2 linked regions of the Homo sapiens genome follow. The protein of the gene in region 1 binds, or shares a complex with, the protein of each later gene. Each region holds a gene or a part of one and is shown in the gene's direction. Other genes may lie near its edges.

Evidence for each region. The genes of interacting proteins can lie anywhere in the genome.
Region 2: CNOT9 (region 1) and CNOT6 share a complex: the UniProt entries of both Homo sapiens proteins name them as parts of the CCR4-NOT complex.

What each region holds. Positions count from the first base shown.
Region 1 is NC_000002.12:218,571,801-218,578,894, forward strand, and holds part of CNOT9 (CCR4-NOT transcription complex subunit 9), read left to right. Parts: intron 1-7,094. UniProt on the Homo sapiens protein: Component of the CCR4-NOT complex which is one of the major cellular mRNA deadenylases and is linked to various cellular processes including bulk mRNA degradation, miRNA-mediated repression, translational repression during translational initiation and general transcription regulation.
Region 2 is NC_000005.10:180,489,596-180,497,472, forward strand, and holds the start of CNOT6 (CCR4-NOT transcription complex subunit 6), read left to right. Parts: upstream 1-4,783; 5' UTR 4,784-5,168; intron 5,169-5,825; exon of another isoform or gene 5,826-5,993; intron 5,994-6,056; exon of another isoform or gene 6,057-6,160; intron 6,161-7,877. UniProt on the Homo sapiens protein: Poly(A) nuclease with 3'-5' RNase activity.

The sequences.
Region 1 (7,094 bases):
TCTCGAACTCCTGACCTCAGGTGATCTGCCCGCCTCAGCCCCCAAAGTGCTGGGATTACAGGCATGAGCCACTGCGCCCGACCTTGCTGTTGTCATTCTTGATGGAATACATCCTAACATCTTCATATATTCATTACCGCTACCATTGAGCATAATTTCTTTTTTCTCTCCTCTAATAAATAAGGACAGAAGTACCACACAGGATTATTCTAAAGATTAAGTAAGAATAACAAAATGCGGCCGGGTACTGTGGCTCATGCCTGTAATCCCAGCACTTTGGGAGGCCAAGGCGGATAGATCACCTGAGGTCAAGAGTTCCAGACCAGCCTGGCCAACGTGGTGAAACCTCATCTCTACTAAAAATACAAAAATTAGCTGGGCATGGTGGCAGGCGCCTGTAATCCCAGCTACTCAGGAGGCTGAGGCGGGAGAATCACTTGAACCCAGGATGTGGAGGTTGCAGTGAGCCAAAATCGTGCCATTGCACTTCAGCCTGGGAGACAAGAGCAAGACTCCATCTTTAAAAAAAAATGAAAGAAAGAATAACAAAATGCTCAGTGGTTGGCTAGATTCACTCACTGATATGTGACTTGTTCCCAGACTTCAGCTTTGGGAATTTAATTCCCAAATTAAAGGCTCACACACCTATAATCCCAGCACTTTGGGAGGCCAAGGCAGGAGGATCACTTGAGGCCGGGAGTTCAAGACCAGCCTTGGCAACACAGTAGGAACCTATCTCTACAAAAAATGTTTAAAAATTTTCCAGGCTGCAGTGAGCCATGATCATGCTACCGCACTTCAGCTTAGGCGACATAGTGAGACCCTGTCTCAAAGGAAAAAGAAAACTACAAATCTTTGCATGCCATAGGTATTCTGTAATGGATGTTATGCTTGTGAAACAACCGGAGGTAAGCCTTTAGGGGATGTGTTTTTGTTTTGTTTTGTTTTTAATTTCCCACTGATTTCCACTGACAATTCTAGCATCCCTAAACACTTGTCTTTCTCTCACTTTCCGCCTAACCAGCAGCATCATTAGTTATTTTACATCTTTTTATTGAAGCTGTCATGGACTGCCAGATGCCTTCCTTTTTGGCAAGTAGAAAGAACACTGCACTCTAAAGGATTTAATTCACTTTCTCCTCCCGAGTCTCCTGATGAAGCTTTAGGCAAATTGCCTAACTTATCTTTCCTTATTCACTTTCATTTTTTAAAAGTTATTTTGAAAAAATACATTCTGGGCCGGGCATGGTGGCTCATGCCTGTAATCCCAGCACTTTGGGAGGCTGAGGCAGGTGGATCATAAGGTCAGGAGTTCGAGACCAGCCTGGCCAACGTAGTGAAACCCCGTCTTTGCTAAAAATAGAAAAATTAGCCTGGCGTCATGGCATGCGCTTGTAATCCCAGCTACTTGGGAGGCTGAGGCAGGACAATCGCTTGAACCTGGGAGGCGCAGGTTATAGTGAGCTGAGATTGTGCCATTGCACTCGAGCCTGGGCAACAAGAGCGAAACTCCATCTTAAAAAAAAAAAAAAAAAAAAGATACATTCTGGCTCTTATAAAATTATGAAGGTAAGCTAATTTAGTACTTCCAGCACTATTAGAAAGTTCATTTTCTTGGAATACCATGCTGACACCCAAATCCACGTGTTGATCTCCAGACTTGGGAAAATAATCTCTATTTCAGTCTGATTCCATTCTTTATGTATTGGCAGGAAAATAAACAGCTATTTTGGCCCTTAAACATAAAGTTACATTGATAATTTGGCTATTTTCTGTTTAAGAAACCATCAGCATCAATTTTTTAGTTTACTCAGAGAAGGAAATCATTTTCTTTACCATTTATAGATAAATGTCATGTTTTATTTAAAATAATTTATAAACATCTTTATACTTTTCACATTATGTGTTAAAATCTTTCAGAAATAGAAGACCAACTTAAACTGTCAGTACCCTGTGTGACACTTGGAGTTAACCATTGGTAACTTACTTTGGTAAATACCTTATCTGTATGTTAAGCTTTCTTGGGGAAAAAAGGTGTCATTTGAAATACATTTTCCATATACAAATCATTAAACAGAAAAGGAGGGAGAGTTACCACCTAAATTTTGATAATATGAAAGTTTTTTAACACACTTATTAAAAGAACAGGACTGTTGACTTTATTTTTTTATTTTATTTTATGTTTTTGAGACAGGATCTCGCTTTGTTACCCAGGCTGGAGTGCAGTGGTGTGATCTTGGCTCACCGCAACCTCGACCTTCTGGGTTCAGTCGATTCTCCCACCTCAGCCTCTTGAGTAGCTGGGATTACAGGCAAACGACACCACACCAGGCTAATTTTTGTATTTTTAGTAGGGGCAGGGTTTCACTGTGTTGAAACTCCTGACCTCAAGTGATCCACCAGCCTCAGCCTCCCAAAGTGCTGGGATTACAGGTGTGAACCTGTCTCTGTGCCTGGCCAGGACTGTTGACTTTAGCAGGTTACAATTAATAATCTACGGTAATGTACTATAGAGCTTTTTTCTATTCTTGGAAGTGTTAAGGATAACTCATAATCTAAATCAGATTTCTCATGATGATTCTATGTGTCCAGGTATGTAATTGAGCTCACTGTGTATCCAAATCCAGCTGTTAATGAGTTCTGTGCTAAGGGAATATTAAATTTAAGAAAGTTTTTTTGGGTTCTTAAGAGTAATTTCTTCAACTTGGAGGAGTATTTGTGCTTTCTATCCTTGAGACCAGATAGAACTCATCGATTCTAGAGAGAAGTAGAGTTTCAGTCTCATTCTGCTGTACACTGGCTGTGTGACCTTGAGCACATTAAACCTCTATTAACCTGTTTCCTCTTAGAATTTTGAGAATAAAATGATGTAATCCACAGTGCCTGAAACATGGTATGCTCAATAAATATTACTGCATATTAATAATTTCTGGAAAAGGCAGACCTAATCTATAGTAGCAGAAAACACCCATGATTGCCTCAGGCTGAGTATGGGGTTTACTGAAAAGGGCATTAAAGAACTTTTTGGGGTGAATGGATCTATATCTTCATTATGGTAGCAGTTACTTAGGTGTATAAATTTCTCAAAAATCTATTGAAGCGTACACTTAAAATGAGTTCACTTTTATTGTATGCAAATTATACGTCAAAGTTTTTTTTTTAAAAAAAGAGCCTCTTAGATTAGACTCTCACAACTAAGAACTAAATAATTTCTAAGATTTTAGAGTTGCCTGAGACTGACAATTATTTAATATAGTTCCTTCACTTTAACAATGAGAAAATTGAGGTTTGGAAAGTTAAATGACTTATCCTAGGTCACACAATTCTAGAAAGAGCAAAACTGGATTTTGAAGTCACTTCAGGCTCCCACGCCAGTGTGTGTTCCAATTATATACACATGTAGTTCCTTGCAAATTGAGGTCTTTCCTGTTCTTCAATTTGATAAACAGATTCTTAATCCTGGGTACATGGATACATTGCAGGAACTCTGTGAACTCCTTAAAATTATGTGTAGGTTTTCGTGTTTTTGCAGTTGTGTATTTTTCTGAGTAAAAGATCCACAATTTTCTTTTTTCTTTTCTTTTTTCTTTTTTTTTTTTTTTTTGAGATGAGTCTTGCTCTGTAGCTCAGGCTGGAGTACAGTGGCTCAGGCTGGAGTACAGTGGTGCAATCTCCGCTCACTGCAAGCTCCGCTTCCCGGGTTCACGCCATTCTGCCTCAGCCTCCCAAGTAGCTGGGACTACAGGTGCCTGCCACCACACCTGGCTAATTTTTTTGTAGTTTTAGTAGAGATGGGATTTCACCATGTTAGCCAGGATGGTCTCACACTCCTGACCTTGTGATCCTCCCACCTCGGCCTCCCAAAGTGCTGGGATTACAGGCGTGAGCCACCGTGCCGGACTTCATTTGATTCTTAAAGGGTCTGGGCCTCAAAAAATGTCAACCTCTGCTCTCTTGGTTGGTATCCTGCAATTATTATTAATGCTTCAAATAAGGTAATTTCCAGTAGAGAAGTCATAGATTAATTTGCTTGCCTGTCAGTGAGCAATGTGTGCTACTAGATTGAGTTCCATATCAGCCACAGCCTTAGAAATGTATTAGTAAATTAAAAATTCAAAGAGTTGTAGCATCTGAACTAGGAATCATTAGAGGTGATCGTTACAGAGTGGCATGAGGAGTAAATCTGCCTGTTGTCTGCCCATGGTTTCATCGATTGTTAAATGAGGTTAATAACCACCATGTTGTGATCATTAAATGAAACCATGTTTTTAAAAAAAGGTGGTACAACAGAACTAACTCTTCCCTCACCTGCCGTACCCCTTCTTCTACTGCCCGCCTCCTTTTAAAAAGATGTCAATTACAGATTCTTTTTGTGAAAGATGGGCCTAAATAACTCTTGGGATATGGAAGGAGAGTAAGATACATTTTGAGTTTTGGTGTTTTATTTAGGAATGTCCAAAATATTTTATCAATCATCTGGTTATATAAATTAATATATAACTCAAAATATAAGAATATTTCCTTTTTATTCTCCAAAACAATGAAATTCCTATATGTGTGTTACAAAATTGCTTGTTATATGTCCATGTGTGTGTTGGTGGTTCTCACTAAGTAAATTATGCCCCATCTGATCCATAATGTGACACAGGGAACTATGTGAAACTATTGTACTGACTTCTCTCTGAAAACAATACCTATTAAGTGCTTTGTAATCTCAATAAGTAGAGAATTTCTCCTAACATCAATGCTACTGTTCATAGTACTGAGTGTTCTTTCAGATTTTGTTGAACTACCACCAATAACATTTTACTTTTTGTCTGAGATTTTTATGTATTAACTATATTGTCTAGGTCAAAGAATATAATTTATTAGGAAGTCATTTTTAGGCTGAGCACAGTCGCTTATACCTGCAATTCCAGCACTTTGGGAAGCTAAGGCAGGCAGATCACTTCAGGTCAGGAGTTTGAGATCAGCCTGGCCAACGTGGGAAGGTCCCATCTCTGCTAAAAATACAAAAATTAGCTGGGCATGTGGCATATGCCTGTAGTCCCAGCTACCGGGGAGGCTGAGGCAGAAGAACCGCTTGAACCTGGGAGGCGGAGGTTGCAGTAAGCTGAGATCACACCACTGCACTCCAGCCTGGGAGACAGAGTGAGGCTCCATCTCAAAAAAAAAAAAAAAGTCATCTTTAGATCAGATTTTGTCTTTCAGGCAGATGAGAAGCAGCATTAGCAAAGCGGTTAAAAGTGTGGGCTCTGTTGCTAGAACACCTGGGTACAAATCCTAGCTTGCCATTTAAATTTTACATAACTTCTCTGTGCCTCAGATTTTCCTTATCTATAAAATGAGAGTGCTGGTAAATATAAGTATTTAGGACAGTGCCTGGCAGAGTAAGCACTGTATGTTTTAAGCTCTCATTTTTATTTTTAAAAAATTGTATTCATCCCATGACAGGTGGGTATTCAGTTGGTGTAACTTACTGCTGTTATTAAATTGGGGGTGAAATGCAACAGGGATGATGAAAAGGAGGATCCCCACCCTAGATATTTCCTGGCACCAAACTGCCCTCCTTTTGGCTAGAATGACAGCAGAACCCATAACACCAAGCTAGTGCCCATGGGGGCCACATTACCACCCACCTGACATGGTTCTAGCTCTCTTAGAATCAAAATCACATGGAGGCTGCAGCCCCCACAAATAATCTCACAAATTGGAGTATTGCTAGCAGCAGGTGTCCATGGCTTTAGGAACCCGTGTACGCACCAGGCATTGGCCTTTCAGAGTGCCTACACCACTGCCAGCAGGGCCATCTTCTCTGTGGGCATCAGGCCAGCTCCAGAAAGAGAATATGTAGGGATGGGGCCTGGTGTTCAGGAGGCATGGTATGCAAACCAGTGGTTACCAGGGCAAGATGGGGTACAAGGTGCCAACTGCAAGTCACACACTGGCTCCAGTAGGGATGATGGAGTTTACTGATGGTGGTATCTGTATGACAAGACTTTGGGGAAGGTCAGCTGGAATGGGTACTGATTAATCAGGAAAGGTACTATATTGCCAGACCAGTATCTGTGAGGCCCCCTTTGGTTACTGGATTGTGGGGTCATCCAAGAGACTGGGCAGGAAACCTAACACTAAAATTTTATCCTGTGTTTCTGCTGAGCGTCTAAGGTGATGTAATATTCTAAATAAACACATACCCTATCTTCAGGTAGGAATTACATTTCCAAAAATAGTTTTTAAGTTGAGGGCCTGTTTGTGGCTGCCTAGAAAGGGCAAGTGCCTGAACAACACTGCTTTTGCTGTTGGGAAAGGAGGAAAAAAGCTACCATATTCCTTCTATCATATTGTTGCTTTAAGAGCCTATGATTGATTCCTTGAGGACCATCCCTGAAGGGAGTTACAAAACAGCTTTTAGCAGATTACTGTAAGGCACTTAAAGCTTAAGCTGCATTGTATTTCAGTCTATTTAGCAGAACAACTTGTGGTTCTTTCTGTCAGGCTAGTGAAATAGTAAAAATAAAGCTAAAAACTTACAATGAAGCTTCCATTTTTAAAAGGCCATTATTCAGATTGGGTAGAGTAAATTTGAATCCACTTCAAAGTCTATTTTATGCTTCTGATCTTCAACAAAGGCAGTTCTTTGTGTTCTTTGTCTTTACATCTGTACAATGGGTAGGTCATCATTCTGTCAAGCTAAGATCTTTTGGGAACTTATAAGTACTGTGAGAAACTGTAATATAGTTCAAAAAAGTACGGGAATATGCAACTTCATACCTTCATACCTGGTTAAATTGAGTGAGTTAATTCCTCTGAACATTAGTGATCTCATCTGCAAGTGTAGATAGCCTTCCCCCCCGCCTCCCGCTCCTTCTTTTATTTCTCATGGTTGGGGGCAATTACCTGAGAACATATTGGGCATAGAGATGGAAATCACCAGGAATTTGTTAGCAGTTTAGAGCTTAGGGGTAGCAATTATCATTTTTCTAGTCTCCCATCTTGTTTTCCAGATAAGAATAATTAAGGAACTTAACCAAGGTCACAAACATATTTGATGACTATAGAGAATTATAAAATATTCAAATTTGGGGGGAATA
Region 2 (7,877 bases), on another chromosome or scaffold:
GTTAACAGGAATCCCGGACAGAAATATAGTTATAATTAAGCATTAATCAGGCGGCACTTAGGCCCACTTCCTTGTAACAGAAAGTCATGTAGCTCCGGACACTGACCATTATGCACCCCCGCTGTTACTACAGATGGGATTTCTGATGTTAGGGTCCTAAGGCTTTTGTTTAAAAATCACTTAAGCAGCCTGGCACAGTGGCTCACGCCTGTAATACTAGCACTTTGGGAGGCCGAGGCGGGCAGATTGCTTGAGGGCAGGAGCTGGAGACCAGCCTGGGCAACAAGGTGAAACCCCATGTCAACAACAACAATTAACGGGGTGTGGTGTATGCCTGCAGTCCCAGCCTCTCCGGAGGCTGAGGTGGGAGGATCACCTGAGCCCAAGGAGGTTGAGACTGCAGTGAGCCGTGATCATGCCACTGCACTCCAGCCTGGGTGACAGAGTGAGAACCTGTCTCAAAAATACAGTAACATAAATAAATATAGGCCGGGTACAGTGGCTCACACCTGTAATCCCAGCATTTTGGGAGGCCGAGGCGGGTAAATCACGAGGTCAGGAGTTCAAGACCAGCCTGGCCAACGTGGTGAAACCCCGTCTCTACTAAAAATACAAAAATTAGCTGGGTGTGGTGGTGTGCCTCTGTAATCCCAGCTACTCGGGAAACTGAGGCAGGAGAATTGCTTGAATCTGGGAGGTGGAGCTTGCAACAAGCCGAGATTGTGCCACTGTGCTCCAGCCTGGGCAACAGAGCAAGACTCTGTCTCAGGGAAAAAAATAAAAAAACAAAAATAAGTAAATAAATATGAAAGAAGTGCTCAAGCAGATCCTGAACTCCAGTCGAACAGGTGATGCCAACCAGTTTGAAGACCCCCAACCCTTGCCCAAAGGAACCAATCAGCATGAGAATCAGCACGGCTTCATCCTGCTCTCCTTGACAAACCAGCAATCTCCATTCTTCAGCCCACTCCAAAACCCTTGAAAATCCTAGCCCCAAACTCATCAGGGAGGCAGATTTGGTTTCTTCTTGTCTCCACATCCAGTGGCCCTAGGATTCAAACCTCCTCTGCTGCAGCCTGGTGTCTTGGCGCATTGACTTGCTGTGCACATCGGATGATGACCCTATTCTGGTGACGCATCCCTCTGTGCAACGCATTTACTGGTCAAATTAGAATTATTTTGGTTGTAAGCTACAGAAGCCAAACTCAAACTTAAGCGAAAAAAAAAAAGTATTGGTTTGTATACCTGGAATAGGTTCTGGTATAGGTCACGAGCTAAAGGAAAAAACTACTGAAACAAGTTGTCAGGCCCTTGCTCTGAGACTCCACATCTTCACCAGTGTCTCATCTCTCCATGTGGTGGGGAAGATGGCACTGGCTGCCACCAATTCATGCTGTCCTCGCTTAGCACGTATCAATCCCAGACTGGTCCTGCTTTGGTACTGCCTGACTGCAGTAGAAACAAGGCCCAGGCCAGGCCAGTGAGAGCCTGCCCTGGGTCTTTGGCTGGAATCATTAGGAAAGAAGCACCTTCTCTAAGCGGAGAAGCTGGTAGAATCTAAGCCTGCAGGTGTTGGTGGCATCTTTCCCGCTTGTGAGGCCTGCAGAGAGAACAGGATGGAGGGTGGGAGGTGAGATCGATTCTTGATGCCACCTTACAATGCCTGAATGGTTCAGCATTCCCTCTTTCAATTCAATTCCCTCCTTCTTGCAAAGAAATATTGAGTTGTGAGTTTTATAACTTGCAATGGGAGGTCTGGCCTAACATGAGGGGCACTTTGATCTGGCCTGAAAGGGTGAGTAGGTATTTTGCGGGGTTCTCCTCGGATATGCAGAAAGAAAAGGGCATGCACAGCAGAGCCACTATCGTACCCTCCTGGTGGCAGCAAGTCTCCCCAGAGGGCTCCAATTAGTCCACCCCGCCCTGCATGCACGCGCAGCTCCTCCACAGCTTATGTCCTCTCCTCTTGAATCTGGCTTGGGCTTGTGCCTGCTTTAATTCATAGAATATTGAGGAAGTGGCCTTCTTCAGAAGGCCTGGCAGCTTCGCTTTCCTCTTGGAGCCCCTGGTTGTCATGTAGGAAGTGCAGGATCACCTCCTGCTGGGGAAAGGGGCCACACACAAAGGCTGAAGGATGAGACACTGCGGGGGAGGCCTCGTTAGGGGGCAGCGAGGTGCCAGACATTCAACACCCAGCTGCCACCTTTGGTATAGGCATGAGGCCCCAAGGGTGAACATCAGAATCATGAGATACAGTAAAACTGTTGCTTTATGCTACCAAGATTTTGTGCAACAAGACCTCCCCTCCTCCATACAGTCGTGCCAGTCACAAGGGAATTGCTCCCTCTGTTTTTTGTTTTGTTTTGTTTGAGTTTTTTTTTTTTTTTTTTTGAGACAGTCTTGCTCTGTTGCCCAGGCTGGAGTGCCATGGCGCAACCTTAGCTCACTGCAACCTCTGCCTCCTGGATTCAAGCGATTCTCATGCCTCAGCCTCCTAAGTAGCTGGGATTACAGGTGCCCGCCACTGCACCCAGCTAATTTTTTTTTTTTTTTTTGTATTTTTAGTAGAGACGGGGTTTTGCCATGTTGGCCAGGCTGGTCTCGAACTCCTGGCCTCAAGTCATCTGCCCGCCTCGGCCTCCCAAAGTGCTGGGATTACAGGCGTTGAGTCCCCGCACCGGGCTGAGGTAGCTGCCTCTGGCCAAATTACAAAAAGGCACCCAGGCTGGAGCACAGACGGCCAGGGCACTCACACAGGGAGGAGAGGCCCTGCAGGGTGTCTGTCCCATTGGCCCCTCAGCCTGGGATACTCTGTACAGCACAGGGCCGCACAACTCCCTGCTGTACAGGAGGAGGTTGTGGAGGGATGGCCACAGGCAGCTTACTGGTCTACATGTGTTCTTCCTGACTCCTAAACTTCTGCACTGCTCTGTCTTTGCCCAGTGTCCTATGGCGCTAGAGGCCTGGGCTGTCACTCCTGATGTCATGGCAGTGCCAAGCGATGACCATCCCAAGGCCGTGCTGGGGAGAGGGGGATCATCTTCACCTCTGAACAGCTTTTGTCCCTCATCCTTTCCTTGCCCTTCCAGCCAGGTCTCCTCCACCCCAGGCAACAGCAACCCATTTCCCACATCCCCAGCTCTCAACAGCCTTCACTGAAGCAGAAGCCTCGGTTTGTTGCTACTGTTAGTTCCTGGAACCTGTCTCACTCTCATTTCTTCAGGGTTGATTTTCCAGGAAGCAGTTAGCAGCCTATCCTAGTTTGCCACATAGGTGGGCAGGCAGCTTTCCTTTTCCTTCACGCCTTCAACATATAGCTCAAATTTTTTTTTTTTTTTTGAGACAGGGTTTCGCTCTTGCTGCCCAGGCCTGAGTGCAATGGTGCGATCTCCGCTTACTACAACCTCCGCCTCCCAGGTTCAAATGATTCTCCTGCCTGCCTCAGCCTCCCGAGTAGCTGGGATTACAGGTGCAAGCCACCAGACCTGGCTAATTTTTTGTACTTTTAGTAGGGACGAAGTTTCGCCATGTTGGTCAGGCTGTTTTCCAACTCCGGACCTCAGGTGATCTGCCCCCCTCGGCCTCCCAAAGTGCTGGGATTACAGGCGTGAGCCACCGCGCCCGACCAATATACCTCCAATATTAAGTCTGTTGGGTGTTATTCTTGCCCCTAGACTGTGAGCTTACTCAGGGCTGGGTGGGGTCTGATTCATCTCTGTGCCCTGACCATCAGTCAACTAATATTTCTTGATGTAAGCATCATGAATCAGCCCAGTCATTTCTCTGCTGACCTTCAAACACCAGAGTTTGCCCTGAACACCTTTTGATCTTGGAGCACAGCAGCTGCTGTCCGTTACCCAGGCTAGGACCCCAGCACCAAAACTGTCCATTAATGTAATGGAATGAATTACCATTAATAGGCTGAAGTGGTATGTTAACTTACTCTTCTTTGTATAATTGAGGAAGGAATAATATTCGACTGTTCACGATTGAATGTCTTGTCTTTAGGCAGATCAAGATACTGGCTCCGGTCAAATACTGTGTTTCGACGTGATTGACAGGCGAAGGCTTAAGGAAAAGGAAGAGGAGAAAAAAAGGGGAGGACGATCAAGGAAAAGAGGAGATAAAAGTGGACAACCCAGCCGGGCGCGGTGGCTCACGCCTGCCATCCCAGCACTTTGGGAGGCGGAGGTGGGCGGATCACGAGGTCAGGAGATGGAGACCATCCTGGCTAACACGGTGAAACCCCGTCTCTACTAAAAATACAAAAAATGAGCCGGGCGCGGTGGCGGGCGCCTGTAGTCCCAGCTACTCGGGAGGCTGAGGCAGGAGAATGGTGTGAACCCGGGAGGCGGAGCTTGCAGTGAGCCAAGATCGCCCCACTGCACTCTGGCCTGGGTGAAAGAGCAAGACACCGTCTCAAAAAACAAAAAAAAAGTGGACAACCTGGGGCGGAAAAAGAAGTAGATGAAAAATGGAGGAGCGCTAAGGAGAGGAGAAAACAGAAGTGCCAAGGCAGGAAAGGAGCGAGGAGAGCGGGAACAGAAGGAGACGAAGGATGGACGGAGAGGAAGGGATGGAGGGCGGCAGGCAGGGAGGCAGGGCCCGCAGCGCGCCGGGCCGGTCCACCGCTCTCCAGCGCGGGGGTAAGGGGGCGGGGCCTGGGCAGCTGCGTGCCGGGAGCGACCCCCGCACCGAAGGGCGGATGGTTGTGCCCGGCGACGGCGCCCAATGAGCGGCCAGGATGTTGGAGCGCCGGCGGCGGTCCGGGCGCTCGCTGGCTGAGGGACGGCGGCCGCCGCCATGATGCTTGTTTGCTTTCAATGAAAACGAGGGGGGCGCGGAGGAGGAGGCGGCGGCGTCGGTGGCGGCGGCGACGGCGGCGCGGAGGCGAAGGCAGCGGCGGGCGCAGCGAGGAGGGCGAGGCCGGGGGCCGAGAGGGCGGGAGGGCGTAGTGGCGGCCCGTCGGGGCGGCTGAGGCGGGCAGCCGAAGCAGTGGCTCTCGGAGGGGGAACAAAGAGCAGCGACTAAGGCGGCAGAGGAGCGGCGGCGGTGGCGGCGCTGCAGCAGCGGGCGGGACTGGTATGGTGGTTCCACAGGGCAGACCCCGCTGCACTCACAGGGAGGAGGAGGCGGCAGCGGCGGAGGAAGGCGGCGCACCCCGAGAGGTGAGCGAGGCAGGCCGGAGGCCCGGTCGGGGCGCCGCTCCTCTCTCCGGCCGCGCACGGACCGCCCCCCGTCGGCCGGGCTCGGTCGCGGGCAACTTTCGTTTCGTGGGCGGCGGTCCCGCTGCTCCGCAAGCTGGCGGCTGTTGGGGGCCCCTTCGACGCGCCGCGATCGCGCCCCGCCCCGGGCCGCGCCCCCGGGCCGAGTCCCTGGGAGGGGGGCGTTGATTGACGGCGGCGGCGGCGGCGCGCAGAGGGGAGAGGGTCGGCGCTGGGCTCCCGGATCCCGGCCGGTCCCGGCTGCCGTCGTCGGAGGAGGCGAGTCCGTGTCCCGGGACTCGTGGCCAAGATGGGTGGCAACTTTTGAGAAGCGCCTCTGTGGGTGGCGCGCTGTGTGGAGTGTGGAGCTTCGCGCTCCGTGGCCACAATTACTGTCAAGCGGGAAACCAACTGCTTACCCCCTCCCCTAAAATGTTTTTAAAATTCAGTTTAACGCAGATTTTGAGGGAGAGGACGGGGTGGATTACAGGTTAAAGAAGCACTTGGCATGCAATGAGGATGCTTATTTTATAGTATTGCGAAGGATTCGGAGATTGTACTGGTTTCTACAAGCAGTTTTCTCTGGTAACCCAAATTGCATCCCTCCTTTTTGTTTTTCAGCACTAATCGCTATTTTCTTTGGAAACTTCCTTTGATTCTTTACCTCCTTCACCTTCCCCGAAGAGCCTGCTAACCAACACCTGTGGCCTTCTGTTTTTAACTGTTGTTGCCATTGACAGCGTTGTGAATGGTCATCTCGCTCGAGCTCTTTGGATTTGTTGTTACTGTGTAAGCTGATGTGTTTTAGATAATCTGCTTCAATTTGAGTTCCCATACTTACCTGTTTTCCAGGTGGATTGTCTCATTGTTAGTGCTGAATCTTCTTGCCTACTTGTATCTGGGAATTTAACTTTGAAGAGGAAGAGAGTGAATATGAATAACTGAAAAATAAAATGGTGTGTAGTAGCACTTTGTATTTTTTACAATATACTAGAATTTACTACTCTAGAACAGATTAGTAGGCTGTAGGAGTGGACGTGGGCCATTGATCAAAAGGGTTTAAAGGCTTTTTTGGGGAATTGCTGTTAAGACATTTATCACAGTCTTTATTTAATTTATTTATTGTTTTTGAGACAGGATCTCACTCTGTCACCCAGGCTGGAGTGCAGTGGCACAGTTCTCGGCTCACTGCAGCCTTCGCCTCCTGGGTTCAAGCGATCCTTTTGCCTCACCCTCCTGACTAGCTGGGACTACCGGCAGACACCACCACGGCTAATTTTTTAATTTTTTGTAGAGCCTTGCTCTGTTGCCCAGGCTGGTCTCCGACTCCAGGGCTCAAGCGATCTTCCTTCCTTGGCCTCCCAAAGTGCTGCAATTACAGGCATGAGCCAACATGCCTGGCCATCACAGTGTTTAGAATGTGATGACTTTTAGAGTAAAATTTAGAATAAAAATTGCTTAATATCTTTAGATCTGTGATCTACTCCAGGTGTTTTGCTTTAAACAAAATACATGAACAGCTGCTAATGAGAAGACAGACCTTTCTAGGTGGAGGTGACTTGCCCATGGTACTGTAATGAGGAGGGAAAGGACCGGGTTTGTGTGCGTGTGAGAGCGCATGAGTGTGCGACCTAATCGCTAGAGGTTTGTTCTTTTGGGAGGAGGGAGGGTATGTTAATGGTTGGAAGTTATTTCAGGTCACTTCTCAGTCGATGAACGAGATGCTGAACGAAATGATCAAAAAAGATGATGCAATTGCCAGGCATGGTGGCTCACCGTGTAATCCCAGCGCTTTGGGAGGTTGAGGAAGGAGGATGGCTTGAGCCCAGGTGTTTGAGACCAGCAAAACCCTGTCTCAGAAAAATATAAAGTAACATATATAAAGTCTGTGATAACTGTCACAACGTAGTGAGACCTTGTCTTGATCACTTTATAAAAACGGTGACGAAAGACAGATTTTCTTGTGAGACTGAAGATTTTCTCTGAAAGTCAATCATTAGGTAATTTCCATAGTGTCTTGATAGTGGTGATGCAGCCCAAGCGGCTCCTCTTGAATGCCTGTTCAATTTGTAGGTATTTTCAGGTTGCTTAAATGTTGTTGGCAAAGTAAAACTACAATTATTGGGAAATTTCAAACTTTTGAGCAGACATAAGGTTGGTTTATAGAACTTGGTCCTAACTACAAATGTGTAAAGGCGTTGTAGGAATTTGCCCACTGTACATGTAGTTTAAAAGTATGCATTTTATGCCAGGCGCGGTGACTCACGCCTGTAATCCCAGCACTTTCGGAGGCCGAGATGGGTGGATCACCTGAGGTCAGGAGTTCGAGGCAAGCCTGGCCAATATGATGAAACCCTGTCTCTACTAAAAATACAAAATTAGCCAGGTGTGGTGGCGCATGCCTGTAATCCCAGCTATTCAGTAGGCTGAGGTGGGAGAATGGCTTGAACCTGGGAGGCAGAGATTGCAGTGAGCCAGGATCACGCCACTGCACTTCACCCTGGGCAACGAGTGAAACTCCGTCTCAAAAAAAAAAAAAAAAAGTATGCATTTTGGTGAATGCTTAGACATTCCAGTACCTATATTTGCCTTCTTATATTCTTTAAATGATAAACCTTTTTCATAGTGCAACAGAAAAGGATAATATATGTAAGACATATTGGAATAAATGGT